Linked DNA regions of Homo sapiens: region 1 is linked to region 2. A link means that fine-mapping ties the variant in region 2 to the expression of a gene that starts in the linked region. Tissue or cell type: whole blood. Region 2 holds a variant in brackets; the other region holds the start of a gene. All regions are shown on one strand. Distances are from middle to middle.

Region 1 (2,681 bases), 35 kb before region 2:
TTGACTTATGGGAGAGTAATTTTCTTCTTTGAATTTTGGGAATGGGGTCCTTCTGGGGTGATCTCCTGTCAAGTGTGAGCTGGCACAGGAGTTCGGAGGAACAGCTGGTTGCTACACCTCCCCTTCCCCTAAAGAGAACAAAGGCTCAGGCCCTCTTTGACCACCAGGTAAGTAAGAGTTCCCCACTCTCACTCCAACACACAGATAGGCTTTTTGGAGCATTTTCTGCCTAGCTACCCCTCTTGCACCCAGCTGCCTCTGCCTGGGCCCCACTGATGTTCTGAGTCCCTGACCCAGGCACAGATATGGGAGGTGAGGTGTGTCTCTCTGTTTGGTGACTTTCCAGGTGCCAAGACACACCTGATCAGCATTCTGGATGCAGGCACTCCCCATCACCCCTTACTTACAGAAATGGGCCACAGGATGAAGGGTATGTATCTATGAATGGCAAAGCTGTACAGTAAGATGAAGAAGCTGAAGAAGGATATCTCCATGGTGATGATAAGCCTCAAGATGGGGTGCACGGTGAGTGAGGACAACAGTATCATTGCAGCTATTAGGCAGCCCTGCAGTGAGACATAGACACCTGAGCCAGCAGCAAGGGCCTTTCACCATCTCTCTGAGGACCCCTGGAGCCTACTCCTCCTTCCCCCCACCCTCGGCCAAGGCCCCCCACCCAGGGATACCAGTTTAGCTCACCAAACTCCGAATCTTGATCTCAGCGTGCCCCAAGAGCCAGAACTCTTTATTGCTGTCTTTTAATTCCCACCGGTAGCGGCGACACCCCCTCCTCGTGCCCACTTCGTGCTTGGGCTGCACCGCCTTTTGAGGTTTGTCCGATGGCTCCTTATGGTCCTGCACCGCCTTTTGAGGTTTGTCCGATGGCTCCTTACCGTCCTTCTTGTCTTCCTCGGGTTTGGCCCCGGGTGGAGGTGGAGCTGGTGCTGGCTCTGGCTTGGCCCCCTTTGCCGCCTTAGGTGCCATGACTGACTCGGTGTCCTTGGCTTCTCACAGCTGGCCTGTTTCTTCTCTCTCCTGCTGTTTCTGGGTAGGCCAGGCCTACTAGAGTGCCTGGTGTCCACCGAGCGGCTCAGAGGGCGTGCTCAGCTAACTGCCAGGACCACCGAATGCCAACTCCCGCGCCCTCTCCACGCGCGCCCGTCTCCTCGCGCAGCTCCCATCCGCCCGGCAGCGGCCGGATCCTCCCACCCTCCACGCGCCGGCCCCCGACGGGCCCCAACTCCGTTCCCAACCCGCCGGTCCCACCTCCGCGCGGAGCTGCCCTCGCGGTCCCATCCCGGCGTCTCCAGGTGGCCCCAGGTCTGTAAGCCGCCGCTCCGCTGCGGGGTCGGGGGGCTGCGAGCACCGGGTCACGGCCCTGAGCTCCGCGGGCGCAGCGCCAAGCGCAGGAAAATACAACGCGACTTTCACACAAGGCAACGAGAGGAAGCAGGTGTTCTCGATAAAAGCAGCAGCCCTAATTTTATGGTCACATTTAGGCTGGAATGGGTGACAGCATGCGAGCTCGGGGGTGGGCTCGGAGGCAGCGATTCGACAGACACGTGCATCTGCTAGGGCGCCGGGCTGGCTTCAGGCGGGCCTCTGCGGGGCGTCGGGGCCGGTTTCGGGGTAGGCGTCCTTGGCGGGGGAAAGCTTCCTTTCAACTTCGACTCCCAGGAATCTTTTCAAGTTGGTCCTCATCTTCGTGGTGACCACAAACGCATCGATGCAACACACGATTACCGCTGTGAGACACAGGGACTGTCAGATACAAGACCATATGCGGGAAGGAAAGACGGGGTTATTTTGCAGCTCAGTAGCAACCTCTCGAACCTATCCCTATCCAGGGTGGGCGCTGCGGGTGGCCTCCTGTCCCCTCTGACCCTTCACTACTTTCTTGGCGCCTGCCCAATTGGCTGCTGCAGGCGGATTCTGCCTTTCCCAGAAAAAGGGATTTTGGAAGTGGGGGATTTTGTTGCCAGTAGTAGCCTCGCTTGATGTCTGAGGCACCCGGAAAGGACTAGGGAAGGGCAGTGGCCCTAGGTGGCTGCAGGTAGGGGTTAGGTCCTGAGAAGCCCTCTCCGTGGAAAGACTTTTGGGCTATGTTTGCAAAGGGCAGGAAGGAGTTCCTAAGGGGAGGAGGAGGACCCAGGCACTGGACTAGGGTCTCTAAGGAATCTGGTGTGGCCAGGACCTCCAGAGCCGCTGAGAAGGGGGCAGAGTTGAGGCTGGAGAGGTGCAGGATCTGGGACTCTATCAGGAGGTCAGGTGTGAGATTCAGAAAACCTGCTTGCAGTGTTCATGAGGTGAATGGAAGGTGAACCAGGCTGGAGGCAGGAAGACCAGTGCGTGGTGGGGTGGGATGCTGCCATCCAGGTAAGAAATGGATACCTGGGGGTGGGAACCCCTGGCAGTAGAAGGAGTGATAGCGGAGTCAGCCGATGGGGACCAGGGGCTGATGGCACAGATATTCCCCTGTGCACTCCGGGACTCTTGACAACCTTGGATGTTTCTCTTTATGGTCACTTAATTCCTGGCTGCTTAATGAGCTTTTCCTAGGTATGTCTTGCCCCAGTGAATCTGTGAGCTTCCCCAAAGGGGAAAGGGCTCTATCCCCAGCACTGAGCTCATGTCTGGCACAATCAATGGGATTGACAGATATTTATTGATTATAGAATGAA
Region 2 (2,681 bases):
TTTCTTTTGACTGCAGATTTCTCAGGGTCTTTGATAAGACAGGATATTTGGATTCTCCCTGTGGAGGCTTTGGCACCCAAGCCAGTTTGCCTCTGGAACCCTGGGTTCTAATTAAACATCCAAATGACAATGATTGCTGAGATTTACGAGTGATTTTTATTTTCTTCTTTTAGGGATTGTGTAATAAGGTTTGATCAGAGAAATCCAACTGATAAATACATATATGCATATTCATAAACATATACATATATTCATGCATACATACATTCTTGTGTGTGAGAATGTATTTCTTTTTTTTTTTTTTTTTGAAGACAGGGTCTCACTCTGTCACCCAGACTGGAGTGCAGTGGTGTGATCTCGGCTCACCACAACCTCCACCTCTCAGCTCCCAAGCTCAAGCGATTCTCTTGCATCAGCCTCCCCAGTAGCTGGGATTACAGGCATCCGCCACCACGCCTGGCTAATTTTTGTATTTTTAGTAGAGACGGGGTTTCACCATGTTGGCCAGGCTGGTCTTGATCTCCTGACCTCAAATGATCCCCTGCCTCGGCCTCCCAAAATGCTGGGATTACAGGCGTGAGCCACTGCGCCTGGCCACTGAGAATGTATTTCTTAGCACAAGAATGCTTAATTTCCATTTTTAGGAAAGATTAAATATTGTTACTTATAATAGGGATAGATGGCTCATCACAGTTTCAGTTATAATCATGGAAAATTGGACTCAAGGGCTCATAGCAGAGGAAAATGGAGATAAATTGTAGCGTAATCACAGAGTGTTGGGCCAGGCCGGCCATGTGCTCCCACAGCATGGGGACCATCTCCTTTTCACAGTTTCCTGTTGCTTTCCTCCACACACTCATGAGCTCTTTGGCCGTTGCAACGAGGCCCTGAGTACACAGTGCCTGGCACAGCATAGGCCTTCAATAAACAGTTGAAACGTGCTCAAAGATGAGGACTGTATAGAAAATAATATTTGGCATGAAATATGCTCATATGTCATGGGGTTTATCTCTTAGTATTGGGATTATGGGTGATAGTTTCTCCTTTTTGATTTTCTGTATTTTCTTCAATGGGCATGCACTTCTCTTATAATATTTTTAGACATCACTTTAAAAAGAAATGTAAAGACTCCCTTTGCTTGCTTCCTGTTCCCCCTTCCATTTCAGGGGAACTTT[G/A]TGAGATTCTTCCTGCGTTGCCTGCTGTAAACCGGAGGGCAGATTGGCTGAGCTCATTCAGGGCCTGACATTCACCAGCTCTTCAGGATTTCATGCTGGGGATAGGAACAAGTTTCTGGGAGAAGGGCTTATCTGAACAACCTGTTAAAATGCTTCAATGAACAGGAAAGAAAAAAGACTGTAGAGTGATGTCTAGGTTGAGCTCTTTTTATATATCTAGGAAGAGGAAAAGTTTTCTTTAAAGAGCAATAAAAAAATTAAATCCATTAGTGCCCTAATGGGGTCTTTTCATGCCCTTTTGTTCATTCCCTTGGGTTCATTTTGTAGTTTGGGGCTCTAAAGGAGTGGGCTGGGAGGGACCCAGGATGGGAGAGTGGCCTTGTGTCTCCTGGATACCCGTTAGGATCAAGGCAGGAGGAACCTTCTCCGCCAGCTGACAGAGTTCTAGTTGCTGGGGAGACTTTAGTGGGGTCGGGTGAGACGGCCCACTGTGACCTGGTGTTTATGTGAGGTGTGACTGAGGCTCCATCAGGAGTCGTGAGAAGGGGCCTGGATGTGAATTCTAATTCTGATTCTTCCCTAGCCAAGTCTGGCACTTGGGTAAGTTACCTGTGTTGCCCAGGTTTCTCTGGGTGCTTCCAGCCTGAGTGCAAAGGAACAGGCCTCTGTGCAGCAGGTCGGGCCCCTCTCTGTGTGTGCCCCTGGAGGATGTCTAATGTGTTCTCAGGGGACAGTTTGTCTTATGTATTGGAGCTGCCCGTTCCCTGTGGCCATCTGCTGGAGCCAGAGCCACTGGGCCTATGTCATCAGCAGTGCCTGGCTGAGCAGAGCTTGGTCAGAATCACTGGGCTACAGGTTCAAGGGCTCCAGCCTAGAGTCTGATTTAGGGTCTGGATGCTACCTGGTGCCACCTCATGTTTAACCAGCTCCTCTGGTGCATCTGAAGCAGGCATCTGTGGACTAGACAGGGAGAAGCTCTGCTCCAGCCTCGTGGTTCCCATCCTTGCCTGCACATTGAAATCGCCTGGAGAGCTTTAAAAGTTACTGAGGCTTGGCCGGGTGCAGTGGCTCACGCCTGTAATCCCAGCACTTTGGGAGGCTGAGGCGGGTGGATCACCTGAGGTCGGGAGTTTGAGACCAGCCTGGCCTACATGGTGAAACCATGTCTCTACTAAAAATACAAAAAATTAGCCGGGTGTGGTGGTGGGCACCTGTAATCCCAGCTACTCGGGAGGCTGAGGCAGGAGAATGGCTTGAACCCAGGAGGTGGAGGTTGCAGTGAGCTGAGATCACGCCACTGTGCTCCAGCCTGGGCAACAAGAGTGAAACTCTGTCTCAAAGAAAAAAAAAGTTACTGAGTCTTGAGTCTCACTCCCAGAGATTGTGGTGTAATTGGTCTGGGCTGTGGCATCCCTGTAGAGATTTTTAAAAGGTCCCAGGTGGTCCTAGCGTATAGCCAGAGCTGAGAACCGCTGCCTGGAATACCTTCTCTCCCTAAGATGAGTT

Evidence for each region. PIP is the estimated chance that this variant, and not a neighbour inherited with it, causes the effect.
Region 1: it holds the start of CMTM2, and the variant in region 2 is fine-mapped to the expression of CMTM2 in whole blood (INTERVAL, PIP 0.91).

What each region holds. Positions count from the first base shown.
Region 1 is chr16:66,577,911-66,580,591 of GRCh38, reverse strand. It overlaps CMTM2 (CKLF like MARVEL transmembrane domain containing 2), which reads right to left and starts at 1,129. Exons shown (of 4, transcript NM_144673.3): 1 at 700-1,129; 2 at 408-566. The coding sequence starts at 984. It overlaps CKLF-CMTM1 (CKLF-CMTM1 readthrough), which reads right to left. Exons shown (of 4, transcript NM_001204099.2): 4 at 1,457-1,761. The coding sequence ends at 1,591. CMTM1 (CKLF like MARVEL transmembrane domain containing 1) reads right to left here. Exons shown (of 4, transcript NM_052999.4): 4 at 1,457-1,761. The coding sequence ends at 1,591.
Region 2 is chr16:66,542,721-66,545,401 of GRCh38, reverse strand. The region is part of intron 2 of TK2 (thymidine kinase 2); the gene reads left to right. Among named protein-coding and RNA genes, the nearest start is that of TK2, 6.1 kb to the left of the region's middle. The variant G/A (reference allele first, on the strand shown) is at 1,176.